4 linked regions of the Homo sapiens genome follow. The protein of the gene in region 2 interacts with the protein of the main gene of each other region in a biochemical or structural test. Each region holds a gene or a part of one and is shown on either strand. Other genes may lie near its edges. The genes, in order: CHFR, GRB14, TNKS2 and PDGFRB.

The links.
Region 1: the proteins of GRB14 (region 2) and CHFR form a complex in vitro, tested with the Homo sapiens proteins (one study listed by BioGRID).
Region 3: the proteins of GRB14 (region 2) and TNKS2 form a complex in vitro, tested with the Homo sapiens proteins (one study listed by BioGRID).
Region 4: the proteins of GRB14 (region 2) and PDGFRB form a complex in vitro, tested with the Homo sapiens proteins (one study listed by BioGRID).

What each region holds. Positions count from the first base shown.
Region 1 is NC_000012.12:132,877,599-132,884,838, forward strand, and holds part of CHFR (E3 ubiquitin-protein ligase CHFR), read right to left. Parts: intron 57-7,240; coding exon 1-56. UniProt on the Homo sapiens protein: E3 ubiquitin-protein ligase that functions in the antephase checkpoint by actively delaying passage into mitosis in response to microtubule poisons.
Region 2 is NC_000002.12:164,611,392-164,618,631, reverse strand, and holds part of GRB14 (growth factor receptor-bound protein 14), read left to right. Parts: intron 1-7,240. UniProt on the Homo sapiens protein: Adapter protein which modulates coupling of cell surface receptor kinases with specific signaling pathways. Binds to, and suppresses signals from, the activated insulin receptor (INSR). Potent inhibitor of insulin-stimulated MAPK3 phosphorylation.
Region 3 is NC_000010.11:91,793,305-91,801,479, reverse strand, and holds the start of TNKS2 (poly [ADP-ribose] polymerase tankyrase-2), read right to left. Parts: upstream 3,055-8,175; 5' UTR 2,790-3,054; coding exon 2,591-2,789; coding exon of another isoform or gene 2,528-2,590; intron 1-2,527. UniProt on the Homo sapiens protein: Poly-ADP-ribosyltransferase involved in various processes such as Wnt signaling pathway, telomere length and vesicle trafficking.
Region 4 is NC_000005.10:150,145,613-150,152,852, forward strand, and holds part of PDGFRB (platelet-derived growth factor receptor beta isoform 1 precursor), read right to left. Parts: exon of another isoform or gene 6,727-7,240; intron 1-6,726. UniProt on the Homo sapiens protein: Tyrosine-protein kinase that acts as a cell-surface receptor for homodimeric PDGFB and PDGFD and for heterodimers formed by PDGFA and PDGFB, and plays an essential role in the regulation of embryonic development, cell proliferation, survival, differentiation, chemotaxis and migration.

The sequences.
Region 1 (7,240 bases), on a different chromosome or scaffold from region 2:
AATTCTACAGTGATCTCCAGAGACCAGTTTATTGCTGGGGAAGGAAAGGTCGCAACCTAAAAAAGAGAGGGTGGGTCAACACGGGATATGATCGTGGTAACTGTGAACACTACTGCACTTTGTTTACCAAAGTATGTGGTTCCAACTCAGGATCCCCATTGTACATATGTAAAAAAAAACACTTGACCAAGAAAGACATAAAGAAATTTTTTTTTTTTTCTTGAGACGGAGTCTCGCTCTGTCGCCCAGGCTGGAGTGCAGTGGCACCATCTCGGCTCACTGCAAGCTCCGCCTCCCAGGTTCACACCATTCTCCTGCCTCAGCCTCCAGAGTAGCTGGGACTGCAGGCGCCCGCCATCACGCCTGGCTAATTTTTTGTGTTTTTAGTAGAGACGGGGTTTCACCATGTTAGCCAGGATGGTCTCGATCTTTTGACCTCATGATCTGCCCACCTTGGCCTCCCAAAGTGCTGAGATTACAGGCGTGAGCCACCGCGCCCGGCCCATCCTGAACCTTTCTGAATCCCCACCCTCTCAAAGACACCCATCAATACCTCCAGTTACACACAGCCTCTTAAATGGCAATTTTACAGCCAGGCGCAGTGGCTCATACTTGTAAACCCAGCACTTTGAGAAGCTGAGGTGAATGGATCACGAGGTCAGGAGTTCGAGACCAGCCTGGCCAACACAGTGAAACCCCATATCTACTAAAAATACAAAAATTAGCTGGGCATGGTGGCGGTTGCCTATAATCCCAGCTACTTGGGAGGCTGAGGCAGGAGAATCGCATGAACCCAGGAGGCAGAGGTTGCAGTGAGCTGAGATCGCGCCACTGCACTCCAGCCTTGGCGACAGAGCTAGACTCCAACTGGAAATAAAAAAAAAAAAAAGCAATTTTACAATATGCTTGCATACACAGCTAACCTGATGAGTATTATTAGAACTTTAAAAAAACTCAGGGGGTTGGCTAGGTCCGGTGGCTCACACCGAGGCGGGCAGATCACAAGGTCAGGAGATCGAGACCATCCTGGCTAACACAGTGAAACCCCATCTCTACTAAAAATACAAAAAATTAGCCGGGCGTGGTGGCGGGCGCCTTGTAATCCCAGCTACTCAGGAGGATGAGGCAGGAGAATGGCGAGAACCCGGGAGGAGGAGCTTGCAGTGAGCCGATATGGCGCCACTGCACTCCAGCCTGGGTGACAGAGCAAGACTCTGTCTCAAAAAAAAAAAAAGAAAAAAAAAAACTCAGGGGCTTAAGTAATTCTTCAGTATCTTAATTTAGTCCTTAATTTCTTTTCTGTGTAAACTTAGGTTTCATAAATCAACATAAAATTGAAGCAATGACAGTCACAGAAAAAGTGACTGAGCCAACTGTGATAGGCATTTGTTTTTTTTTTTGTTTTTGTTTGTTTTTTTTTTTTTGAGATGGAGTCTCGCACTGTCGCCCAGGCTGGAGTGCAGTGGCACCATCTCGGCTCACCACAACCTCCACCTCCCAGGTTCAAGCCATTCTCCTGCCTCAGCCTCCTGAGCAGCTGGGACTACAGGCATGCGCCACCATACCCAGCTAATTTTTTGTATTTTTAGTAGAGACGGGGTTTCACCATGCTGGTCTTGAACTCCTGACCTCTTGATCCACCCGCCTCAGCCTCCCAAAGTGTTGGGATTACAGGCTTGAGCCACCGCACCTGGCCTGCGATAGGCATTTGTACACGTATAAGAAACTGCATCTTATATACAGGGATGCATCTATAGCTGAATACAGTAATTCTGACACTTTGGGATTTTTTTTTTCTTTTTTTTTTTTTGAGACGGAGTCTCTTTCTGTGGCCCAGGCTGGAGTGCAGTGGCACGATCTCAGCTCACTGCAACCTCTGCCTCCCGGGTTCAAGCGATTCTCCTGCCTCAGCCTCCTGAGTAGCTGGGATTACAGGCGCACACCACCAGGGCCAGTTAATTTTTGTATTTTTAGTAGAGATGAGGTTTCACAATGTTGGCCAGGATGGTCTCGATCTCTTGACCTCGTGATATGCCCGCCTCGGCTTCTCAAAGTGCTGGGATTACAGGCGTGAGCCACCAGCGCCCGGCCCTGAATACAAAAGCAAGAGGGAAAATCCTCAATACTTGCCCTCTCCTTAAATCAAAAGAACAAAGGCGTTTTAATATCTCATCATTAATCATTACTGCCTATAATAATCTATAAGGATACATAAAGATACTAGAAGACAAAAAAGCGAAGGGTTTGGTCAGGAGACAGTGGCATGCAAACATACTTTTCCTAAACGTTCCACACAGAAAGACACCCTGAATCTGCTTTAGCCTGAGCCTTGCTCCCATCACTGACCTATGGGTGTGTGAATCAGAAGACTCAGTATTGTTAAAATGTCAGCTGTCCTCCAGATTGTTTCATACATTCAATGCAATTCCAGTCAAAATCCCAGAGGGCTTGTAGACACTGACAAGCTGATTCTAAAGTTCACAGAAAAAACGTGTAGAAAAACCAAAGCAATTTTGAAAAAGAATGAAGCTGGAAGACTCATATTACTTAACTGACTTACCATCATGCTATAGTAAACAATACAGTATTGTGGCTGTGTAAGGATGGCCAGACAGAGACAAATGTAAAATCTAAAACTATGAAACTTCCAGTGGAAAAGACAGGCAAAAATCTTAGTGCCGTTGGGTCTTGCATGGACTTCGCAGATAGGATATAAAAAGCACAAACCAGGAAAAAATAATAATAATAAGCTGAGGTTTGTCAAAAGTAAAATGTGGGCCAGGTGCCGTGGCTCACACCTGTAATCCCAGCACTTTGGGAGGCCAAGGGGGGGGCGGATCACAAGGTCAGGAGATCGAGACCATCCTGGCTAACATGGTGAAACCACGTCTCTACCAAAACTACAAAAAATTAGCTGGGCGTGATGGCGGGCGCCTGTAGTCCCAGCTACTCAGGAGGCTGAGGCAGAAGAATGGCGTGAACCCAGGAGGTGGAGCTTGCAGTGAGCCAAGATGGTGCCACTGCACTCCAGCCTGGGCAACAGAGCAAGACTCCGACTCAAAAAAAGAAAAAAAAAGTCAATTCTGGGCCAGGCGTGGTGGCTCACACCTGTAATCTCAGCACGTTGGGAGGCCGAGGCGGGCGGATCACAAGGTCAGGAGTTCAAGACCAGCCTGACCAACATGGTGAAACCCAGTCTCTACTAAAAATACAAAACTTAGCCAGGCATGGTGGCGGGCGCCTATAATCCCAGCTACACGGGAGGCTAAGGCAGGAGAATGGTGGGAACCCAGGAAGCGGAGGTTACAGTGAGCCGAGATCACGCCACTGCACTCCAGCCTGGGCGACAGAGCGAGACTCTGGCTCAACAACAACAAAAAAAGTAAGGCTGGGGGCGGTGGTTCACGCCTATAATCCCATCACTTTGGGTGGCCAAGGCGGGCGGATCACTTCAGACCAGGACTTCGAGACCAGCCTGGCCAACAGGATGAGACCCCATCTCGACTAAAAATACAAAAAATTAGCCGGGCATGGTAGCATGCACCTGTAATCCCAGCTACTTGAGAGGCTGAGGTGGGAGAACATGGGAGGTGGAGGTTGCAGTGAGCTGAGATCGTGCCACTGCACTCCAGCCTGGCAACAGAGCGAGACTCCATCTCAAAAAAAAAAAAAAGTAAAAATCTGTTCTTCAAAGATATTGTTTAAAAAGATGAAAAGACAAGCTATGGACTGGTGGAAATATTTGTAAAACACATATCTGACAAAGATCTTGTATCCAGAATGTATAGAGAACTCTGATAACTCAATAAATAGAAAGTAAATAATGCAACTTAAAACAATTTAAACACTTTATCAAAGAAGAGATATGGATGGCAAATTAAGCACATGACAAAATGCTCAACATCATTAATCTTCAGAGAAATGCAAATTAAAACCATGAAATACCACTACACACCAAATAAGAATTGGCTGAAAATACTGACCACGGGCCGGGCACGGTGGCTCACGCCTGTAATCCCAGCACTTTGGGAGGCCGAGGCGGGCGGATCACATGGTCAAGAGATTGAGACCATCCTGGCCAACATGGTGAAACCCCGTCTCTACTAAAGATACAAAAAAATTAGCCGGGCATGGTGGCACGTGCCTGTAGTCCCAGCTACTCAGGAGGCTGAGGCAAGAGAATGGCTTGAACCCGGGAGGCGGAGGTTGCAGTGAGCTGAGATTGCGCCACTGCAAATCCAGCCTGGCGACAGGGCAAGACGCTGTCTCAAAAAAAAAAAAAAAAAAAAAGACTGACCACCTACAAGTGGCCAAAAGGGAAGTGGAAAACCTGGAACTCTCGTACTGTGCTGTGGGACTGCAAAATGGACAAGCACATGGGAAACAATGCGGCAGTTTCTCAGCAAGTTAAACAGACACTGGCCACGTGGCCCAGCAATTCCATTCATAGTTACTTAGCTAAGAGAAAAATGTATGTCCCTACAAAGACTGCACACTTATGTTTATATTAGCTTTATTTCTTACAAAAACAGGAAGCAGTATAAATGTCCATCCACTGGTTGTAAACTAACAAGCCATGGTGCATCCAAACCACAGAACACTACCCGGTAACAGAAAGGAGCAAACTGCTCATCCATGCAACAAGGTGCGTGCCAGGGAAAGAAGCCAGGCGCAGAAGATGATGGCAGACACCCTGTGACCCTGTGTCACGACACGCTGGAAGCAGCAGAAGGCAAAGAAACCAGATCAGTGGCTGCCAGGAGCCGGGACTCAGGGGGACCTTTCAGGGTGACGAACATGTTCTACATCTTGACTGCACTGGTGAGTACATTTCCCAAAACTCATGGAACTGAACCCCAAAAAAGGTGAATTTTACTACAAGTAAATGATACTGCCATGAAACCGGATATTAAAAATCTTATTTGTGCAAACATTCTGTACTATTGGAAGTACTGTATCCAAGGCAAGTATCACCTGTGGTCAAGCTCTTCCCATTCCATTGAGCGTTAACTGCCAGGACAGTCTCCTTCAAGCCCCAAAACCAGTGCAAGTCACGGTGTCGCCAGAGCCAGTTTGTAACAGAGGCGTCTCCATGCCAGAACATCAGGTTTTTTTTTTTTTCTTTGAGACAAGGCCTTGCGCTGTTACCCCAGCTGTGGTGCAGTGGAGCAATCACAGCTCACTGCAGCCTTGAACTCCCAGGCTCATGTGATCCTCCCACTTCAGCCTCCTGAGTAGCTGAGACTACCAATATGCACCACCACGCTCAGCTAATTTTTTAAGTTTTTGTAGATACAGGGTCTATGTTGCCCTAGCTGGTCTCAAACTCATAGGGTCAAGAGATCCTCCTGTTTTGGCCTCCCAAACTGCTGGGATTACAGGCATGAGCCACCGTGCCTGGCCTGAATATCAGCATTCTAATCTGGAACCGAGATGCTTTGTGCTAAAGTTCTATTCACAGCATTTGCTGCGCTTGACGCTTGGTGGGTTAAATCTTTCAAGCAGTTGATGTACATTTCTGCCACTCTCTTAGAATAAAGAGCTCTTGGCTGGGCGCGGTGGATCACACCTGTAATCCCAGCACATTGGGAGGCCGAGGCGGGAGGATCACCTGAGGTCAGGACTTAGAGACTAGCCTAGCCAACATGATGAAACCCTGTCTCTACAAAATACAAAAATTAGCCAAGCATGGTGGTGAGTGCCTGTAATCCCAGCTACTCTGGATGCTGAGGAAGGAGAATCACTTGAACCTGGGAGGCGGAGGTTGCAGTGAGCCGAGATCACATCATTGCACTCCAGCCTGAGAAATAGGAGTGAAACTCCGTCTCAAAAAAAAAAAAAAAAAGACTGGGCGCAGTGGCTCACGCCTCTAATCCCAGCACTTTGGGAGGCCGAGGCGGGTGGATCATGAGGTCAGGAGATCAAGACCATCCTGGCTAACATGGTGAAACCCTGTCTCTACTAAAAATACAAAAAAAATTAGCCGGGCATGGTGGCGGGTGCCTGTAGTCCCAGCTACTTGGGAGGTTGAGGCAGGAGAATGGTGTGAACCCAAGAGGCAGAGCTTGCAGTGAGCCGAGATCGTGCCACTGCACTCCAGACTGGATAAAGAGCTCTTTGGGAAAACAAGGTTGTTGCACCCCTTCCTACACGTTACCTAGGCTTTCCCTTTTCCCCCAAATAATGCCTTATAAATGGCAGGCACATCATTGCTTTAAAATAATCAAGTTCTGTCTGGGCGAGGTGGCTCATGGCTGTAATCCCAACGCTTTGGGAGGCCAAGGCAGGTGGATCATTTGATTTGAGGCCAGGAGTTCAAGACCAGCCTGACCAACATGGTAAAACCTCATCTCTACTAAAAATACCAAAAAACTAGCCAGGTGTGGTGGCACACGCCTGAAATCTCAGCTAGTCTGGAGGCTCAGGCAGGAGAATCACTTTAACCTGGAAGATGCAGGTTGTAGTGAGTGAAGATCGCACCACTGCACTCCAGCCTGGGTGACAGAGTAAGACTCCGTCTCAAAAAATAAATATATCAGGCCGGGCACAGTGGCTCACGCCTGTAATCCCAGCACTTTGGGAAGCCGAGGCGGGTGGATCACCTGAGGTCAGGAGTTCAAGACCAGCCTGACGAACATGGAGAAACCCCGTCTCTACTAAAAATACAAAAAGTAGCTGAGCGTGGTAGCACATACTTGTAATCCCAGCTACTCGGGAGGCTGAGGCAGGAGAATTGCTTGAACCCGGGAGGTTGGAGGTTGAGCCAAGAAGGCACCACTGCACTACAGCCTGGGCAATAAGAGCAAAACTCCGTCTCAAAAAAAAAAATACATATATATATATAAAATAAATAAATAAAATAATCAAGTTCTACAACTGTTAGGAACTGAATGTTTGTAACTGAGTGTCTGTACCCCCCTAAAATTCATATATTTAAGTCCTAATCCCCAATGTGACTGTATTTGGAAATGGGGCCTGTGAGCTGATAAATGTTAAATGAGGTCACTAGGTGGGAATCAGATGTCACAGGGCTGGTGCCCTCTTAAGAGGAGGCAGAGAGAGCAAGCAGAGTCCCCCTCTCTGCCATGTGAGGACACAGCAAGAAAGTGGCCACCTGCAAGCCAAGAGAGCCCTCACCAGGAACCCAATCTGCCAACACCTTGATCTTGGACTTCCCAGCCTCCTGAACCATGAAAATAAATTTCTGGCCAGGCACAGTGGCTCACACCTGTAATCCTAG
Region 2 (7,240 bases):
GTGTATATATTTTTGGGGGGAGGGGCTTGAAGTCACTTGGTACACAGGTTTTTGGGTAAGGATTGGAGAAAATGGGAATAAATTTTTCTAGAAGCAGAACTATGTTCTGAATTGGCATCTTTGAAAGGGGGAATAAACCCTTAAGTGGGTGGGACTGTAACTTTGTTTGGGGAGACAAAGAGGAGACTCTCTTGAGACCTTTATTATCAGGATGAGGTTTAAAGTCAGATCCCAAGGAAAAAACAGCCCTAGTGAAACTTCCAAGCTCTTTGAGAGTTGACTTTTTGGTTTGGATAGAAAATGGAAGTAAGGATAATAGATTTGACTGTGTGCCATGGTAGTGGAAAAAAAAAAAAGAGGCCGGGTGCGGTGGCTCACGCCTGTAATCCCAGTAATCCCAGCACTTTGGGAGGCTGAGGCGGGCAGATCACGAAGTCTGAAGATTGAGACCATCCTGTCCAACATGGTAAAACCCCGTCTCCACTAAAAATACAAAAATTAGCTGGGTGTGGTGGCCTGCACCTGTAGTCCCAGCTACTCGGGAGGCGGAGGCAGGAGAATCGCTTGAACCCAGGAGGCGGAGGCTGCAGTGAGCTGAGATTGTGCCCCTGCACTCCACTCTGAACGACAGAGCGAGAATCTGTCCCCCGCTGACACTACCCCCCCCCCCCCAAAAAAAAGATTCTGGCTTGTCCTTGAGCCAGAGTAAGAAAAGGAAATGTCTGATGATGACATAATGGTCATCTGGAAGAATTTAATAGGTAGTTCCCAAATTACTAAGGGCCTGCTATGTTTCTCACAAATCCTAGGCAGTAAGGACCCTAGCTAAGCAACAATACCATGCAAGATATATTTAAAAGATGGGGCTTTGATTTGGGGTTGTGGTAGCGGGTGGAGCCTGAACCAGAAGGAAAGTAAAGGGAAGGATATCTGGGCTGACTCACTTTAATGCTATGAATGGACACTTGCAGAATGCCTGTGTCTGAGAGATTTGTTGATGATGCAGGGTTTGTTTTGAATAGAAAGTGAGAAGAGGTGTTGGTATGCTTATGTTAGTATAGGGGACAAAAGAGAAAGAATGGGTAAAGTGCCAGGGTTAAGGCAGGATGTGCCCTAAGTGTGGATAGTCATCAGACTAGAGTAAGACGTCTTAGAGATTGATGACATTTCCTCAGATCAGGTTTAAACTGGAAAATGGGCAAAAAAAAAATAGCAAACTGGAAATGGGGAAAAGGTGATATTGTTATTGACCCCAATAGGTTTCCTGCTCTGGCCTTGTATCCTGTGTCCACAATGACCTTCTCAAAGAACACTGTACCCACACACACACCTGTACTGTTCCCTGAGCAGAGAGTCCCCGCCTGATTTTTAAAGATCCATCCCAGAGGGCTGTCCCTACCTTTGAAGGGCCCTTCTTGCTGATCTCTTCCTTGGCCCAATGGTTGAGATCTCTATGAAGACAAGGGTACCCCAAAGTTGAGGAGGAGGGAGGCTGCTTTTTACTTTATTTTATGCTTCCTTTTTCCCCCACCTAGACTTTGCATTTAGAACTGATCCTTTTGCTTTAGTTTCTTTATACACACTCAGTTCTTTGAAATGAGGAAGGTTTTGAGAATAGATGACTCTATGTAAGTGAGTCCCCCAACTCAGTAGCTTTGCAACACATATTACCCTTTTACAAGATGCTGTTTTTGGCCCAGTTTATCTGTAACCTTCAGTTGAGATGATGTAAGTGACTATGCGATATGTTCTACTGAGTATTATTTATGGTTGAAATATTATAGGAGAAGATGTCTCTTTACTTTATATTCTCTCTCATTTGTCCTGTTTAACCATTCCAGTCATTTTAGTGATTCTTTTCTCTCCACAGAAAAAGTGAAGAAAATAATTGTACTTGTTATTTACAAATCAATGACCAGAAAATTTGAGAGAATCCAGACTAAAAATGTTAAATTTCATCTGGCCTTTCAAAATCACAGTCAAAAACCATCTTACAAGTCATAAATTTTGTTTACTATTTGAGATGCCTACATAATGCATGAGTGGTAAAGTGCATTGAAGCCACAAATGGGATATGTTTTATCACTTTTTGCAAATAAAATGTCCCAAAGTGTACAATACTGTAGGCTTTCAGTACCATTATTTTTAAATGAAAGCTAGAGTGAGAGAGAATCCATATTCTTTTTTTTTTTTTTTTTTTTTTTTTGAGACGGAGTCTCGCTCTGTCGCCCAGGCTGGAGTGCAGTGGCACAATCTCGGCTTACTGCAAGCTCTGCCTCCTGGGTTCATGCCATTCTCCTGCCTCAGCCTCCCGAGTAGCTGGGACTAGAGGTGCCTGCCACCACGCCCAGCTAATTTTTTTTGTATTTTTAGTAGAGACAGGGTTTTACCGTGTTAGCCAGGATGATCTCCATCTCCTGACCTCATGATCCACCCGCCTTGGCCTCCCAAAGTGCTGGGATTACAGGCATGAGCCCCTGTGCCCCGCGAGAATTCATATTCTTTATTCCCTTTCCCTCTTTTTATAATGATGGCCAGATTTCCTAGGCATCTTTCTTTGTGTTTACTAATAAAGCAAATTTAAAGTATACCTTCCCTTACATACATGGTCCAGAAAAGTTACTTATATTAAAAGTGACTTCCATTATGAACTTAATCTCTTTTTTCTAATTTATGATTTAAATTTATAAGGAAATCATCTGTTAGTAATGAACCCTAAACACCTATTGTTTGAAGGAAAGCAAAGAGTTAGAAATCTTTATTTAGCTCTTGCAGCAGAATCAGTTCTTGTCTTTTTTGTTGACCCCTAGGTAATTTTTGTGCTTGGACATAGCCTGTGTAGTAGCTCTGGTTAATTGCTTCCCAGGACTATGTTGTACAACTAAGTAAGAATAAAGCCTCTGAAGGCTTTAGAGATTTAAAAAATGCTATGAAAACCAGTGTCATGAAATGTTTGAGTTGGATGGGATTTTTCAGATCTTCTATTCCAATATTCTTCTTTAGTGATACGTAAATTGAGTTTAAGGAATGCTATGTGGCACAGCCAGCACCTGAAATCTGGATTTCTTGAGGCTTTGACAGTCCCTTTTTAGGAAGGTACAATTTCTAAAGAAAGCAAGGACTGTAAATAAGAGTAGTATAATAATACATGTGTACCAGTGTTGTTAGTTACAACTCTCCTCATAACACAAGAAGAACAGGGGAGACAAACGCCATTTGTTAATATTCATCTAAGGACCTGGAATTCCTCTTTTTATTTCTTCCCGAAATGTAACTACGTTTTTTCTTCTAGCTTTCTTCTCCATCTTCTCCCTAAAATTGGTCTGAGAAATCTATCAAATATTTGATTTTATTATCAAATAAGATTTATTAGTATTATTAATAACCAGCTTTTGTGTGTGGTTTACGGTCCACAGGATATTATTTCATGGGAACACAAGAAAATGAGTATGTCACCTGCATTTTAAGATTACAAAAAGAGTATGCAAAAACTGGAAGGGATTTGCCCATGCTTCCACAGTTTAAATAAAGGGAGATCAAAAAGAGTATCATGTCTCAATGTGTCCTGTCCCTTACCACACTGTTTCTAGTGTATTCTTTATTAAATTAAGCCTTTTTTTGTATGTCTCAGAAAAATAAAAATTTATCTCAAATAATTAAAAAATTAGTTTTCCATATGCTCGGCCTTTTATTTCTTTTTTCTCTACCATGTCACGGACTTTCAAAGGATAAGCAGATCTCTGTCCCCAAATTAAAGGGCCTCTTATATCATTCCTTTGTGATGCCAGTAATTACCCCACTTTGGACATGCTGAACTTGTATGTGTGGTCCTATAGGAATCTTGTGTGGCTGCTACATTAACTGAAATTTCATATACTTATTTTTCTAGTATACATAGAAGTAAAAGAAGAGAAACCCATGTACATATTGTAGTTTTTCCAGACTCAGCAATTATCAAGATTTTGCCTCATTTACTCCATCTATTTCTTTTTTAAAAATTTTATTTTCTTTGCTAAAGTATTTTGAAGTATATCCTGGACACCCCATCATTGCATCTCTACGTAGTTTTGTATTCATCTCTGAAAAATGAATTTTCTTTTATATCCCAAATGCCATTATTCCCTAACATAAATAACAGCAATTCCTTGATATCGTCTAAAACCATTCATAATTGAATTTTCTCAGTTGGAATGGCTCATGAAATTCTCAAATTACAAACTGCTTAGCTTTCAAATGTCTGAAAATTAGCTCTTTGGAAGTTTAAATTCATTTTTAGATGGAAACAACATCATAAATTGTATTTAGGCCCTCTGAGCTATTTTACAAAATCCCATTTAATTGGAAACAAAACATATATGCAGAAAGAATGATAGAAACAATACTCTCTCCTATTAGGGTTTCAAACAAATCTATCTTTCCAACGGCAATTTGCTACTTTTGAGTGCTGTCACTTGATGAATATAATTTTTTGGGAGAATTTGAAAGCGTGCAGATCTTTGTAGCAGTGTTGAAGCAGGCTTTACAGCTGCGCTTCTCAAAGTGTGGTCATTAAATCACCTTCTTCAGAATCAGCAGGGATGCTTATTAAAAATATGGATACTTGGACCTCTTGCAAAACCCACTGAATAGGAATGTTCTGGGGGAGGTTATAGGAATTTGATTTTTTATATTTTTTTCTCTTTGATATGTATACAAATCAGTGCTACTCTTAATCTCTACCATTTTCAAACTGGGGCAATTGGACCTTTCAAAACTGAGGACAGTTGTGTTTTGTTGACAAAGGTGAGTATGTTACAAATGGCCTTTAGTTGGTATTTTAGCCAGGTATTGATTGTTCAGACAAAACAGAGCCTCAAATGAACCAGCCTGAAAGGCTGTGTTGTAGTACCTGAAGGCCAAAAGGTCACTGGTCTCATGAGAGGCTGAAATTGGGAGCAAGAAAGTCAGCAAAAATCAAGTCAACCACTTTCTCTATTCTCTCTCTTTTGTTCTCCCACAAACATACCACATAGTCTCTGCCTCTCCTTGCAAATTCACATCATTTTTGAGATTTCTTTGCAGTGTTGCTTGCCCTGATTTCATGTCAGTGCCAGCGGCCTCAAGTGGCTGCTCCCAAGTTTTCCACCTATTAGTGGTTCAGTACTTGGTAACTGACTGGGAACTGTATCTGGAGAGGTATGTTAGTCCAGTGTGTCCAGATCCTATTCAATCAGATGTGGCCAAGGGGACAGTGGGCCCTGGACCACTGTTCAGTCTGCAAGGGTGTGGTAACATGTGAGAAAGAGGTACAGGTTTAGTAGGTATGGCATATGGAGGCACTATGTCCTAGGGGCAGCTAGTGTCCTAGGGGAAAAAAAAGATCTCAAACAGGACACAAAAACTAATTCTAATCATATTTGTATGATATATGATGATCCACCAATTGGTTTATTTGACTTAACGTACCCAGTTCAGAGTGTTCAGCTCCTTTGTCTCAATTCACTTAATGTACGTGAAGCATACTTATTGGGCAGTTGTTTCAGTTGATGTCACCCTTCAGGGATGCTCAGCTTCCTTGTCCATTTTCCTGAGCTTACGTCTTACTGAGGTCCCTTAACCCCTGATGACAGGAATTACCAACTCAGGTTCCTTCCCACCTTATGCTAGTTACCTTCATTGTAGGAGAAGTTAGCTTTCTTTTCCTATTTTAAAACTTAAATCCCCTAGCAGATCTTCTATTTGTCAAGGTTTTATTTCTAGTTTGAAGGTTGCCTTTAATTTTTGGTTAATTTGCAGGGTACATTTGCAGTCCAAGCTTTATCTACAATATGGGTTTTCTTTTTAACGTTATTGAAATCTCAGCTTCTGGTTTGTTTTTCCCTGGGGCATATAATATGTTCTGTCAAGAGAAAGAAAATTGGAGTCATCATGGTTCAATATAAGTGTGGATTTTAATTAATATAAAAAAGATTTCTGCAGTCTTATGGATATTGCTTTGAAAAAACGTCAGCTTATGTCAAATAGTAATAAACTCTATTGTATAAGTATATGCTTATGTGTATTTCAATGGTGGTAAGCAGACCTGAGAATTGTCCTTTTGACATTACAGATAAAGGTCAGCTCAAGGGAGACCCCAGAGAATGGCCACAAGTCTTTGCCAAGGCAAGGGAGTAGAAAGAAAGGGTTCAGGATTAATTTAGAAGAGAAATGGCAGGACTGACATAGGGAGACCATCCTTTAATTCTTGTCCTTTTCTTTGGCCCACTCATTTAACATTTTTTCAAAGCCACAGAAAAAATAAACACAAATAGGAGGTTTAATATTCTTAACCAGCTTACAAATGCTTGTATTCCAGAAGATCTTTAATAAATTGGCCATTTATTCACATACATTTTTCCATAGACGTATTGTTACATGCAGTGGTTAGGTGGTCAGGCCAAAGCCTTAAAATCCATAATGGCTCCAAAGTATAGTGCTCTTACAACATTGCGTGTACCGTTTTTAAAATTGCTTCTGTGGAAAGATGTGTCAATATGATGTGACTGAAAGATATTGGAACAGGAATCAGCAAACCTAGTTTTTAATACAGTCCTACTACAGATGAGGGGTGTTATATCAGCCCATTGCTCACCCTTTCTGTACCTGAGAGCTCTACAATTTTATTGTATTCCTAGAGCAAGTGATTCTGATGGCTCCAGAAGCAGTAATGGCTCCTGTGCAGCAGATACAGGAGTCGTGGAAAGCAGGGTTTCTTTTGTTCCACTAGCCCTAGAAGCTCCCTCTTAGCCTCTGTTCAGGTATTCCCATATAGTGACCACACTTTTTTGTGATAAAGAGTATGTTTGGGGTGTCATAGGACAAAGAGCACAGGAGTCACATTCATGGAAATAATTGGGGCAGAAGGGTCTGGTTAAACTAGAAACTGCAGCAAAGTCATAGTTCAAATATTAGAAGAAGAATCAGAAAAGGAATCACATCTAGTAGGAGCCAGCTCAAGTGGTGAAGTTAAAGTACAGGACCAAGCATCTAAACTTAGAAATAAGGATACGAGATAAGATGTGACCACTTGAGGCCGGCATAGGTCCAATACACATTTGGCTCTACTTGGTTTAATAGGTACGGGGTGGTCGTAACCTCTGAATTCTCTAAATTTATCTTTCTCCACCCTCAAATCATTTATTTGATTACTTAAGCCAAAATTTAAGGAGTCCACTTTCTGTTCTTGTTAAGTACTGCTTCATCTTTCATCAAAGTAGGCTTG
Region 3 (8,175 bases), on a different chromosome or scaffold from region 2:
AAAAATTCCTGTCTTGTGTATATCTGCGTATGGTCGGGGGCAGTGGCAGGCGGACTGAAAAGGAAACAATTTACAGAGTCATTTTTCTCCTAAGGAATTACTTCTTAAATAATATTTATCTAGAAGAAAAGTATGCAATCTAGTTCAGTAATAAAAAAACACCTAGTAGAAGGAAAATTCCTGTTTATGTTGACTATCTTCTTCATTAACAGAATTTAACTCTCTTGGTGCTAGCAACGGATTATTCTTTTAATTGAACTAACTTTTGGGGATGAAATTAAAGCAAATGTTTTCTAAACTAATTTTCATTTTCTGTGGTCTGCACGAATCTCTCAGTCCTAATATTACTTGGGAATCAAAACAAAAAGACAAAAACATGCCTCCCCCAGTAAAATCTCCAAACTTTAATCAGCTAAAAAAATTTTAAAATAATGATGTCCCCCATCACCTCCAATAGCTCACTCTATGACTGAAGTACAAACACAAGAAACTGCTTGATCAGGCAGTTACATAATACCACCACCTGTGTTGAACTTCCAACAGTATGCTTGCAGGCACATTAACATGACTGATAACTCACTACCTACAACAGATTATAAAGTATATTCTCCATATATTAAGTGAAAAGGTAGCTGGATGCACTTAAAAAGCTTCTCTCTGATGAACCTAAAATTCAGATTAAATTTACAAACCCAATTTTTAAAAAAGTTTCTTATATGATTGAAGTGCAGGACTTCAAAAGCTCTGGTTGAATGAAGAACCCCCACTTCATAATTTTTATTACTCCCTTTTTATACCTTTAACTCTTAATCTGATAACCTATACCTGATAATTTGGGTAAGTTGTGAGGGGTGGGTTGGTTTCCAAAATATTAAGTCTTCCAAACTTGAACAAAATGAAACCTATGTAAAAAATATGCTTTGAAACGTTGGGACAGAACTGAAGGTGGGAAGGCAGAGAAGGAACAAGGTCACTGAGGATCTAATAACATAATCTTACACCTCTAAATATTACTATTTTCAGATATGAACTCACTAATACACCAAATTCTTGAAAGGTAGCAACTAAGATCTTTCTTGGTTATTTTTATCCCACAGATCAAGTGAACAGAATCTAAGTAACCCTACCCTTTGGCTTATGTATCAGTTGATCGTGACAGTTTGCCAAATGAGTTGTTTAAATGTTGACTACATGGTCAAACAGGACAACCTAAATTAGCTGAAGAACGGCAGCACTTACCACCGAAATTTCGGGCAAAAAGGCTAACTAGGTGTGTTTGACTTAAGTATTCTTCCTTCTCTTTCCATTGCCCACAAACCGTTTCTAGTTCTCCCACCTAGGTTCCCTAAACTTTCTTCTTTTTAAAAGACTCCCCAATGGAAATCCAACAAAGGTGCAATTGATCAAAAAAGCATACCTCCTGGTAGTATTTACATTTAAAATCTGGAACAGGTTAAAGCGAACAAATCTCCAATTGGTAGAAAGTGTAAAAGTAATATCTGTGAAAGAGGAAATATTTCTCACTGCTCCTTTTCTCTTCATCAATCTAGCCCCAAAAGAACAGGAGTACTTTAAAAGGTATTCCCCGATTTTTCAAAAAATTGTTTTAAACAATCATGAAATACACAAAACAAAAAACCAGGATTGTCAGAGGTAAGAGGAGGTACTCCCATTTTCAATCACGCATGACTCACCTGAAGTTAGAAACAGTCATCATCTTTCCTACAAGTGAACAGCATGCATGCTTTATGGGAATAAGCTGAATATCCCATCTATGGCTCTTTTAAATTTTTCGACTAAATTTAATATGCTTAAATCATAAAGTGAACCTAATAAATATTAAAATAATGTAATTCAAACGATCTAAATTTCAGAATGAAGCAAGGTTAGTCCCAACTTAAATTCTAGATTCAAGCTAAAGTACTTGCACTATCTTTTCTCTTATACTACCACTTTCCGCCCAACTTGTATGTGTGTGTGTCTAAGGCTTCCCGCACCCAGCCTAAGTCAGGTTTCAGTTCTCCCAAACTTGCCTATTTCCCGTTCTAGTCACTCCAGAAACTTGGTAATGATTGGCTATTCTGATAAACCAATTAACGCTAATGTGTCAACGTCCTATTAAGCTACTCCTCCTAAATTACATCCTTGTATTTTACAAAGTCCTTCAAGACCTTAACCCAAATGGAACTTGCAAGAACGAAAAATTTTGGAGGTAACTGACCTTTTAAATCATAAGGTCTATCAACTACGTCCCCTACTCTTTCTTGTGTGTAGAGGCCTTCTAGGGTAACAAGACCGGAAGTTGGTACAGGTATTGTTGATACTGTAAAACAAAACAAAGCCAAAACCCCAAACCACCCCCAACACCTGGCAAAAAAACCAAACCAAGACAAAACAAAAAACTTCCAGCGAGTGTGGCACGCTCACCCTACCCCTAATCTCCTTAGTCCCCACTGGAAGAGAGCGAGATCACCAGGACCAGAGTCCTGGAGAAAGGTCGGGAGGCGGAGGAGCACTGGTTTCAGACCTGTGGGCCCCGGCTGCGCAGGTGGGGTCTGGAGCGAGGCGAGGGGACGCTGGCCCCGGTTACCTGCGGCGAAGTGCAGCGGGGTGGATTTCCTGCCCGCCGTGTCGCGGCTGTTCACCTTCTCAGGCGTCACCAGCCTCTTGACTCGTTCCACGTCCCCGTTGCGGCACGCCTCGAACAGCTCTCGGGCGGCCGGCTCCACGGCCTCGGCCGCGGCGCTCGCGCAGGCCGCTCCCCCGCCGGCGCAGCGGCGACCCGACATGATCCTGGCCGCCGCCACAGCCAGCAACAGCGCCAGCAACCGGAGCAGGAGCCCCGGCCCCGCGAGCAGGAGGGCGAGGCCCCCCGGAGAAGACGCGCTCAGGGCCCGGGCCGCTTGGCTCCCTGCTGTCACCGGATCCGGCGCAGTCCCATGGCCGCGCCCACGCGCGCCCCTCGCTGGGCTCCCTGCCCCCCGGCTGCCCCGCGGCGGCGGAGGCAGCGCGAATCCGCCGTCCGGGTCCTGAAACGACGCGGCGGCGGAAGCTGGCAAGGCCCCTCCTGCCAGCTCCGTCCAGCCCCGGGAGCGCACGTGACGTCGTCCCGCGCGTGCGCAGTGGCCGGGCACCGGCTGGGCAGGTTTCGGCTAGCGAGGCGGCGCGAAGGGTTTGTGGGAAATGTGAGGCGAGAGGCTTCGGCGGCGGGAGAAGGGGCTTCGTCCCACCGCCATCTTTGCGGTGGGTTCTGCTGAAGCCGAACGATCCTGCATATTGTGTTTTTTGTTGTTGTTGTTTTAAGCCCTGGGCTTTCCAGGCTGAACTTTCTCACTACCATTACACTGAAAAAGAGCCCTTGAAAGTTTTGCTCGGATCTTGCACATTCTTTTGGAAGTCTTACTGTGGAAATTGTCCGTGTTTTCAGCTTCCACATCCCTTTCTCCTGGGAGATTTCTTTTCCGTTTTTTTTACTTTGTCTCTTTTCTTTCCTCCGCAACTGCTTTGTTGTTGTTGTTGTTGTTTCTTGTAAACCACTTCTCAAAAGTGAACTAGTTGCCGTTTAATAGAAGTTTGGATGAACTGCCCCCAAAATAAAGGAAATCCGAACAGTCATGGAAGTTGACTCCAATTGGAGGGATGGCTCTGATCAATTACTCTTTCCACAGTAAGTTATTAGCTCAGGATTGATTAGAGGAACTTTTTGTAAATCAATATTGTACCTGACATGCCTAAAGTTTGGATACACTGAGCATACGCATCTCCAAGAAAGTTTTCTGAGTTATAATCTTTTTCTTTGACCAACAAACAAAAGAAAAGCATATAATTGATTTTCATGCTTAAGATACTGGTGTAGTTTTACACGATAATTCCCCACTACACCCCCTTGTCTTAAACTGAAAGAAAGGTATGCCTATACATACATTTTACTTACAGAAGATGATACATGTTGACCTTTGCCATTCTGAAAAGCATCCCCCCCCCAACCTCCTACCTTAACCTGTTTTTCAGGAAATCCAGTTTTTGTTGGGGAATGTTGACTCACTACAGTGCTAAAAGAGGATGTACACTTTTTTGAGCATTTTTATACATATGAAATTGAAGTTATGGTGCTTATCAATAACATGAACATGCATGAACGAACCTAGGACTAGAACACTACCAATATGATTGCGTTTATCATTTTTCTTCCCATAAATCTGCTATGGTGATCTATGATCAGTGATAAGTTGAAATCACTGTTGTAATTGTTTTGAGGCACCACAAACCACACCCATAGAAGACAGCAATCAATCAATAAATGTGTATGTTCTGACTGCCCCACTGACAGGCTACTCTGCCATCTCTCTCCCTCTCCTGGGGCCTATCTGTTCCCTTAAACACAATAATATTGAAATTAGGCCAATTAAGAACTCTGCAATGGTTTTCTAGGTGTTCAAGTGAAAGGAAAAGTTGCGTATCTCTCACTTTAAATCAAAAGCTAGAAATGATTCATCTTAGTGCAGAAGGCATGTTGAAAGCTGAGATAGGCCCCCTTGCACCAAACAGCCAAGTTGTGAATGCAAATGAGAAGTTTTTGAAGGAAATTAAAAGTGCTACTCCAGTGAACACATGAATGATAAGAAAGTGAAACAGACTTACTGCTGATACGAAGAACGTTTGAGTGGTCTGGATAGAAGGTCAAACCAGCCACAAGATTTCCTTAAGCCAAAGCTGAATCCAGAGCAAAGCCCTAACTGCCTTCAATTTTGTGAAGGCTGAGAGACCTGAGGAAGTTGCAGAAGACAAGTTAAAAGCTAGCAGAGGTTGGTTCATGAAGTTTAAGGAAAGAAGCTGTCTTCATAATATAGAAGTGTAAGGTGAAGCAGCAAATACTGATGTAGGAGCTGCAGCAAGTTAACTAGAACAGGGGTCCCCAACCCCCGGCCCTTGGACCGGTACTGGTCCCTAGCCTGTAAGGAACAAGGACGCACAGCGTGAGGTGAGCAGAGAAGGTGCAGGGCGGGGGATGGAGGCAGGGTGGGGATGGGCGGGGAGTGAGCATTACCGCCTGAGCTCCACCTCCTGTCAGATCAGCAGCAGCATTAGATTTTCACAGGAGCGCAAACCCTATTGTGAACTGCACATGTGAGGGATCTAGGAATTTGAGGCTATGGTGAGCTGTGATCATGTCACTGCACTCCTCTACAGCTTGGGTGACAGAGACCCTGTCTCTGAAAACAAACAGAAAAACCAGCTTGAATGGATGAGGAGTTACTTCTTATGGAGCAAAAAAAAATTTTTTTCAGATGGAACCTACTCCTGGTGAAGATGCTGTAAAAATTTTTGAAATGACAACAAAGAATTTAGAATGTTACTTAAACATAGGTGATAAAGCAGGAGCAGAGCTTGAGAGATAGGCTCTATTTTTTTGTTTGTTTTGCCATTAAGTTTCAACACCCAAATAGACTCTAATTTTGAAAGCTCTGTGGGTAAAATGCTATCAAACAGCATTGTATGCTACAGAGAAATCTTTTGTGAAAGGAACAGTCAATCGATGTGGCAAATTTCATTTTAGCTTCTCTTAAGAAATTGCTACAGCCACCCCAACCTTCAGCAACCATTATCAGTTAGCAGCCCTCGATATCATTGCGGCAAGACCCTCCAACTGCAAAAAGATGACAAGTTGCTGAAGGTTCAGATGACTGTTAGCATTTTTTAGCAACAAAATATCTATTTTTAATTTTTAAAATTGTTTGAATTTTTAATTTTTTGGGTACATCACAGGTGTATATATTTATTGGGTATATGAGATATTTTGATACTATCACTCAATGCCTAATAATCATATCAGGGTAAATGGGGTATCAGTCATTTCAAACATTTATCTTTTGCATTACAATCAATTATACTATTTTAGTTATTTTTAAATGTACAATTAGATTATTATTGACTATAGTCACTGTGTTGTGTTATCAAATAATAGGTTTTATTCATTCTTTCTAATTATTTTTTGTACCCATTAAACATCCCCCACCCACTTCACTTCTCAGCCTCTGGTAACCATCATTCTACTATCTCCATGTGTTCAATTGTTTTAATTTTTAGCTCCCACATAAGTGAGAATATGAAAAGTTTGTCTTTTTCTGCCTGGTTTATTTCACTTAACATAATGATCTCCATTTCCATCTATGTTATTGCAAATGATAAGCTCTCATACATTTTTATGGCTGAATAGTACTCCATTGTGTATATGCACCATGTTTTCTTTATCCATTCATCTGCTGATGTACACTTAGGTTGTTTCCAAATTTTGGCTATTGTGGACAGTGCTGCAATAAGCATGGGAGTGCAGATATCTCCTCAATATACTGATTTGCTTTCATTAGGGTATATACCTAGCAGTGGGATTGCTGGATCATATGACAACTCTATTTTTAGTTCTTTGAGGAACCTTCAAACTGTTCTTCATAGGGGTTGTACTAATTTACATTCCCACTAAAAGTGTACAAGGGTTCCCTTTTCTCCATATCCTTGTTGGCATTTGTTATTGCCTGTCTTTTGGATAAAAGCCAGTTTAGCTGAGATGAGATGATATCTCACTGTAGTTTTGGATGAGCAAAGAAAATGTTTTTTACATTTCTCTGATGATCAATGATGTCAAGAACCTTTTCACATGTCTATTTGCCATTTGGGTTTTTTGTTGTTGTTGTTTTTTGTTTTTTTGAGATAGAGTCTCACTCTGTCGCCCAGGATGGAGTGCAATGGCACGATCCCGGCTCCCTGCAACCTCTGCCTCCCGGGTTCAAGCGATTCTCGTGTCTCAGCCTCCCGAGAAGCTGGGATTACAGGCACCTGCCAGCATGACTGGCTAATTTTTGTATTTTTAGTAGAGATGGGGTTTCACCATGTTGGCCAGTCTGGTCTTGAACTCGTGACCTCAAGTGTTGTGCCCACCTCAGCCTCCCAAAGTGCTGGGATTACAGGCATGACCCACCGCGCCCTCTTCTATTTGCCATTTGTATGTCTTCTTTTGAGAAATGTCTATTCAGATCTTTCACCCATTTTTAAATCAGATTATTAGACTTTTTTTTTTTCCTTTTGAGTTGTTTGAGCTCTTTATATATTCTGGTTATTAATCTTTTGTCAGATGAATAGTTTGTAAATATTTTCTCCCATTCTGTGGATTGTCTTTACACATTGTTGATTGTTTCCTTTGTTGTGCAGAAGCTTTTTAACTTGATGTGATCCCATTTGTCCATTTTTTGCTTGGGCTGTTTGTGCTTCTGGGGTATTACTCAAGAAATCTTTGCCCAGTCCAATGACCTGGAGAGTTTCTCCAGTGTTTTCTTTTAGTAGTTTGATAGTTTCAGGTGTTAGATTTAAATCTTTAATCCATTTTGACTTGACTTTTGTATATGGTGAGAGATAGGGGTCTAGTTTCACTCTTCTGCATATGGATATTCAGTTTTCCTAGCACATTTATTGAAGATGGTGTCCTTTCCTCAATATGTGTTCTTGGCACCTTAGTCAAAAATGAGTTCACTATAGATGTATGGATTTATTTCTGGGTTCTTTATTCTGTTCCATAGGTCTGTCTGTTTTTATACCACTACCATGCTGTTTTGATAAGTCAGGTAATGTGATTTCTCCAGTCTTATTCTTTTTGCTCAGGATAGCTTTGGCTATTATGGGTATTTTGTGGATCTGTATAAATTTGAAAATTGTTTTTTTCATCAATGTTTTTTAGTTTTCATTGTAGAGATCTTTCACTTCTTTGGTTAATTCCTAGGTATTTAATTTTATTTGTAGCTATTATAAATGGGTTAATGGGATTACTTTCTTGAATTCTTTTTCAGATTGTTCACTGCTGGCATATATAAATGCTTCTGATTTTTGTATGTTGATTTTGTATCCTGTAACTTTACTGAGTTTTGTTTTGTTTTTTTTGAAACAGGGTCTAACTGTGTCATCCAGGCTGTAGCGCAGTGGTGTGATCAGGGCTCACTGCAGCCTCAATCTCCTGGGCCGAAGCAATCCTTCCACCTCAGCCTCCTGAGTAGCTGGGACCACAGGCATGCACCATCATGCCCAGCTATTTTTTTTTTTTTTTTTTTTTTTTTTGAGATGGAGTCTCCCTATGCTGATCCTGAACTCCTGGGCTCAAGCAATCCTTCTGTTTTGGCCTCTAAAATG
Region 4 (7,240 bases), on a different chromosome or scaffold from region 2:
CAGACAGGCTCCAGAGCACACAGCCCAATGCCCATGAGACAGCCCCTCTGTGGCAGGAGGCAAAGATAAGGAGCCCCGCAAAAAGGACAGCCCAGTACCTGGCACAGAACAAGCTCAAATAAAAAAAAATAAAAGTTAATTAGCCAGGCGTGGTGGAGGGAGCCTGTAATCCCAGCTTCTCGGGAGGCTGAGTCAGGAGAATTGCTTGAACCCGAGATCGCGCCACTGCACTCCAGCCTGGGCAACAAGAGTGAAACTCCGTCTCAAAAAAATAAATTAAAAAATAAAGTCGTCAGCCTTATCTTTTCGCCTTCTTTGTCCCAACTTCTCCTTTCACTCTTTCACGCTGTCTTTTGAGCTGGGTAAAGCTGAAGCTGACAGTTTGAGTGGGAAACAGTCACTCCATTTTTCACAGAGCCCTACAGTCTTAGTACATTCCCTCTATTCACATCTCCCCCACCTTCTCTGCAATTGCACACCTCCCATGACAGGGCTCTCACCACCTCACCTGTGGCCCATTTCATTCTTAGCCAGCTTAGAATCTTCAGAGGGCAGACTATTGAGAATTGTTAATTACACTGAGTACAGTTTATCTCACTGTATTCTCTGCTTATTGGTCTTGCTTCTATCCACCAACCACCCTCTCCCCAAATACAGGACATCTTTCTAGTTATTGTTCTGATCCCCCCCAATCTGGAAACAAACAAAAGTCCCTACTAATTTAGAGCCAGGCACTCTGCTAAATGAGATGATCTGGAGATTTTGTTTCATCCTCACGACCACCCTGTGAGGGGGGTACACTCATTATTCCCATTTTACAGAGGAGAATGATGAGTCTCAGAGACTTTTGGTAACTTTCCCAAGGTCACACAATAAGTAAGATGCAAAGGAACGGGAATGCAAACTCAGGCCGGCCTGACTCCAAAGCCTATATTCTTTCTTTTTTTTAGAGACAGGGTCTCGCTCTGTTGCCCACGCTGGAGTACAGTGGTGTGGTGGCATGATCATAGCTCACAGCTCACTATAGCCTCAAACTCCTGGGCTCAAGTGATCCTCCCGCCTCAGCCTCCTGAGTAGCTGGGACTACAGGTGCGCATCACCACAACTGCCAAAACCTGAATTCTTGCCCGTCATGCCAGACTGTCTGTCTCCTGACCAGAAACAGTTCTGTCCATCTGTCCACAGAGAAACGTTCTCCCTCTAATGGCGTCCATACGGAATCCAGGATCTCAGGGATGAGAAGATCCTCAGGGATCTGGGTCCCGCCTCTGCTCTGACTGAGGGGCAGTGTATGCGGGAGGCCTGCCCCGGGTCACCAATAATTTTAAAGTCGAGCTAGGGATAGAACCCAGGACTAGGGATAGAACTCCACAATTTCGCTGCAGAGGCTGAGGGTGAGCACACAAGGCTGAGGAGAGAGTTTTTGCTTAGGAAAGCCAGGGTCTGGCAGGGGCAGTGCTCCTGCGGGATACAGCATCCAGGCAATCAGCCCAGGTGTGTGGCCGGCTCTGCCACAGGCCTGCTGTGCACAGGGTCCAGGCCTGCCCCTGTGGGGGCCCCAGCACCCCCTTCCACTGTTTGCAGAGGGCCAGGGCCTCTGTAGCTGCAGAGTTCCAGGCCTCCACCATCCTGCTGCTGCCCTCCCCATCCCCACCCCCCAGAGCCTCATCTCCGGCCGGTGCCATGGCAACAGGGAGTGCCAGGCCCTTGGCAGCCAAAGGAGCCCCTGAGAGGGGTCCCAGGCTGAGACTGAGGAGGGGGGTGCGGCAGGCGCAGACAAGCAAACCTTCTGTTCCCCGGGCTGCTGCCAGCCCGGAGCAGCCATGGGCTGGGGTGGGGGCCGCAAATAGAATGGGTTCTCAGAGCCAAGTGGGCAGGGGACAGGCAGGCCTTGGGCCATTCACACTGACCCACCAGCACACAGCCTTCCCCCACAGGCCCAGGGCCTGCAAATAGGGGAGGGGTAGCTAGCTAATGAGTAAACCCTTCACTTATCAGTGCCAATTACCAAACATTGAGATTCCCCTCAGAGCCCTCCTGGGCGGCAGAGCAGGAGGGCAGAGAACCCCCATGTTTCACTGACCCTCTCACTGTCTCAGCATCTGTCCTCCCACCCCTGTCTTCGGTCATTCACTTAACCACCCCTCTGTGCCTCAGTTTTCTCATCTGTAGATTGGGGCTCATCACTGGGTTGTCAGGGCTATTGAAGGAGTTAACACAAGCAAAATGCTTAGAATAGGGCCTGGCACACAGCCCTCTGCAAAGTTGGTGGCCACATTATTATTATTCATTCACTCAAGGGAGAAGAAGTCACTCACTCACTCGGCCTTGCGCGCACAGCCAAGACTCCACGGGACTAGGCTTCTCAGCAAAGTGATGCATGTGATAAATGAGACGGTGCAAGAAGGCCTCTCCCAAAAGACGCTCCTCAGGAAGAGGTAGCTGCTGATTATTGGTACAATCAGTAGCAACAGCCCTTTTCAGTGTCCTGAGGCTCAGTGAGGAGTGTCTCATCCTAGCACACTCGGCGATTCGGTGGCCAACCTAAGGCCAGACCCATCTAATCACCACTGTCTGTCAATTACTTCTTTCCTGAACTTTTGTCTTAGTCCTTTAATATGACTTCCCACAAATCAGGATACCTACCTAACAACGATCTGGACTCTCTTCAACTTCCTAATATGGAATTAGGCCTACAGTAGGTGCTCAGTAAACGCTTACACGATATGAGAGATTAAATGGCTCTGTAGGGTCAGCTCTTCAGTCCTGGGCCCTCGGCTGCCTCCTAATAACACAGGATTCACTAGGCTAGGGAACTGGCATGGATAGGCAATGGTGACTCTTTCCTTCCAGGGAGGTGATGGAGATGAGCTGGTGAGGGCAGAACAGACATATGGCACTCTGAAGCCAACAGGCTGCGCCTGATGCCATCCAGGGCAGGGATGGGAGCCCCGCCAGGCTGGGAGCAGTGGTTCCAGCTGGAAGCCACTTATTCCTGGGTCCAAGCCCCAGTTCTCTGAGTTTAACTTATCTGAGTCCCAATTTCCTGGGAAATGGCATGGGAGACCTCCTTTTCCATTTCTGGGAGGGCCAGAGATGATGACGCACAGCACTTGGCACATCATAGGTGCCCAGTAAATGGTGACTAACAACAGTATATGATTACTCCAGTGGGGAGAGCGGGTATGGCTTCCTGAGGGAGGTGGCCTTGAGCTAGGCCTCCAGGGTTTCTTGAGTTTTTTGGCAGATGATGCCAGGGAAAGGTATGGCCAGGGCTCTGTGAGAGATGAAAGGCATCTGGGAGAAATGGCAGGGAGAGATCTGTTGGGCTAGAAACTGGGGCTCTTCAGCAAACAGGTAGGTGATGGCCTGGGAAGGAGGCAGCAGGAGGCCAGGGAAGGAGGCAGGGAGACTTCAGGAAAGGTCTGCGGTGCTGTGTGAGGATTTTCTCTGGACCACCAACTTTTCAAGGTGTTGATAGTGATGGCGGGTAGTAGCTGCTGGCTTGGCAGGGCAATGCTGTAACTCCAGGCACTGTGGGGAGGGGGCCTCCATGCAGGAGGATGACACCAGCAGGCTGGCATTTAGTGGGAGGCTGTGGATTAGGATGGGGACAGTGGAGGCTGCAAGGCCAGTGTTGGGGATGAAGCCGTCCCAAACTCAGCCTGAACTCCCTGGCAGGACAAGCTACATAATTTGTGGGGCAAGCACAAAATGGAAATGCAGGGCTCTTTGTTAAAAATTATTAACAATTTCAAAATGATGACTGCAGAGCATTAAACCAAACATAGGCCCTTCTAAGCATGGGGCCCTCAGGAGGATGAGTACTCATGAAGCCATCTCTGTGCCCTGGACTAAAGGGGAGGCCATCTGTCTGTCTCCATCGATTTATCCATCCATCCATCCATCCATCCACCCACCCACCAATCCATTTATGCATCTCTACATGCATTTATTTATCTAGTGATTATTTCACTATCCATTCAGCAGATAGGCCCTGGGTTGGACACTGATAAGGACACAAATACAGGTGAGATGGGAGCCACCCACAGTCCACCAGGTCAAACCTGCACCTTTACCTTCAATGCTCTGGGCCAGGAGGGGCCAGGGCTTCTGTGACATGTTTAGAAAGCTGAGCCCTACCCCTCTAAGGCTAACTGGAAACCCTGCCCCACCCTATAACCACTGAGGCTCAGCCTCAGAAGTGAAGAAGCTGGTGGTGTCACTGCCCTTGGGTTTCCACTTCTCAGAAGGGAAGGTAACAGAGCAGCAGCAATGAGGATGTGGCAAAACAGTCACAAGAAGCATGGTAGGAACTCTCAGGGGCTAAGGGCAGAGCTGGATGGACCTCTGGGGGCCACTAAACTTCTCCCTTGGCTTCTCCCCACTTTATTATAAGAGGAAACTATGATTAGAATGAAGAAGTGGTATGGCCAAAAGCTCGGGGGTCCAGCAAACCACCCAGGAAGATTCCCATTTCTTGTTGGGACGGCTTTGCTCCTTTTCAGCCCATAGCCCAGACAGACCTGGAGGCTGAGCCCTGAACCACAGAGGTGGAGCTGGGTCTCTCCAGGCCTTCAGAGAGATGGTAAAGACCCAGCACCTGTGGTGGAACAAAGGCGAGCCCAGGTCCCAGGCTCAGCGTCATCACCAATGATCTGTACGGACCTTAGGTGCAACCCTTCCCCTCTCTGGACCTTAGTTCCCATCCATACAATAAAGCAGTTGGATCAGGTGACCCCCAAAAGTCCTTTTCATCTCTGACATTCAGGAACTTTCAGACCCCCTGACCCTCCCAAGGGACAGCCCTCTCCATCACAGGGCGGAGAAGCTGGTACCTCTGGCAGATAAAAGGTTTCAGGCACCTGAGACATCAAATAGCCCTGATCTGAATTGAGGAGAGGAGGGGATTTTAATGCGGTTAAAGCAGTACACTTTGATTTTCAGCCTCCTGCACCAGGCTGGGGGTGGGCTACCCCAGGAAGCATCTGGTGGATGTAGGGGGCGGGGGCAGGGTGGGCTCTGGGGCTAAGGCTTGGAGGTTCAGGAAGACTTTATCCTGAGGATCTGGGCCTGAGGGCTCAGGAGGGATGTGAAGTGGGCTTCCACACTGGAAGCAACAAGCATGGGAATTTCACACCCACTCCCACCAGAGGTAGGTCCCTGTGTCCATTCCCCCCCTCACCTCTGGATCCCATCACTCATCTGGGCCAAAGCCTTGCTTCCTCTTGAAATTAGAGCATATGAGGTTTGAAAACGCAGCACTGGAAGAGACCTAAAGGGTTACAGCATCCACACACAGCCCCTAGTGGGCCTTCCTCCCCGACCCTCCCTGCTCAGTATCTCAGGAAAATGGGCATGTGGGAACTGTAGGAGCCCTCTGAGCTCCTCAAGAAACTGAGCACGTTAAGGGGCCACACTAATTGTCAGAAAGTTCCTCATTGTTATTGCAGGTTAAAGTTTTCCATTAGTGGTCATCGATCCTGACCTCTTTCTGTAATGTGTAGAAAAAGGGTAAGAAAAAAACCCTTTCATTGTGAAATTAAATATGCATGATCCCTGAGTACACAGCAAGGCTTGTGCAGCTGCCAATCTGGGCTGGCATGGCTTGGAATCCTGAAATTGTTTTAGGGCTGGAAGAAAGATTTACCATCATCTGGGTCAACCTCCTCGTTTGACTGATGGGAAAACTGAGGCCCCAGAAGGGAACGATCTGTGCACAGTCCCATAGGGTTCTAGGGTCTGATGACTACCTCTGGAATGCTGAGGGCCCCCACAGCTGAGGCACATTCTCAGGGTTTACACTGGATCCCCAGGGGCATCCCAGGCCCCATCCAGCCTCTCATCAAGGGGATCTGGAGTCAGAAACACCCAGGTGCAAATCCCAGCTCCGCCACTTCCGAGCTGTGGGACTTTAGGCAACTGACTCTGCGCACTTTCTCACCTGTAAAATGGGGAGAGTTTAGCTGGGTGCGGTGGCTCACGCCTGTAATCCCAGCACTTTGGGAGTCTGAGGCAGGCGGATCACTTGAGGTCAGGTAGTTCGAGACCAGCCTGGCCAACACGGTGAAACCCCATCTGTACTAAAAATATAAAAATTAGCTGGGCATGGTGGCGCACACGCCTGTAATCCCAGCTACTTGGGAGGCTGAGGCAGGAGAATCACTTGAGCTTGGGAAGCGGAGGTTGCGGTGAGCCAAGATCATACCATTGCACTCCAGCCTGGGCAACAGAGTGAGACTCCATCTCAAAAAAAAAAAAAAAAAAAAGTGGGGAGAGTTTATATATCTAATTTTGAGGTTGCTGTGACGGTTTATTTATTTATTTATTTATTTTTTTTGAGACAGTCTTGCCCTGTCGCTTAGGCTCACTGCAATCTCCGCCTCCTGGATTCAAGCAATTCTAGTGCCTCAGCCTCCTGAGTAGCTGGGATACAGGTGCGCACCACCACGTCTGGCTAATTTTTGTATTTTTAGTAGAGACAGGGTTTCACCATGTTGGCCAGGCTGGTCTCAAACTCCAGACCTCGGGTGATCCACCCGCCTCGGCCTCCCAAAGTGCTGGGATTACATGTGTGAGCCACCGTGCCCAGCCTCGATGGTTAAATTAATCCAGTAAATATTTACTAAGAATGTCCTGAATGCCCAGCATGTTCCAAGTGCTGAGGAATACAGCAGCAACTTTGAGGTAACAGATGTAAAGCACAATTGAAGTAGACACAGAAAGTGCTAAGAACGAGTTGGTTCCTGTTATATCATCATGCTCACACTGCTTCCCAGCTGAGGTGCTACAAGCCCTGACCCTGGGAAGGGGCCCAACACCCCTTCCCTTCCCTCCTAACGCTCTGGGTCAGAAGACAGGGGGCACCAAAAAGATTCCCATTCCAAGAACCCACTGCCCACTGGGTTCTGAATCAAATGCAAGAAATGGGTGGGCATTTCAGAAGACCTTTTCATCCCTTTCTCCCTTCCCACTGCATTCAGCAGCAGCCTGTTCTGAGCCAATGCCCAGAGCACCCTCCTTTAGCCTAGAAGGCAGCTGGTCTCAGAGTCAGACTGTGGCCTGTGCCTGGAGGATGGACACGGATCTTTGGAACATACATGGTGTCCAGGTCCCTTCTGTGGGCAGAGCCTTTTGCAGGTTGCAGATTAATTTCACAGCCAAGTGTTCCAATGCAGGAGGCCAGGAGAGCAGTGGTTCTCTCAGCCAGTGGCCAGAGGTCCAGCTGTGAAGTGCAGGA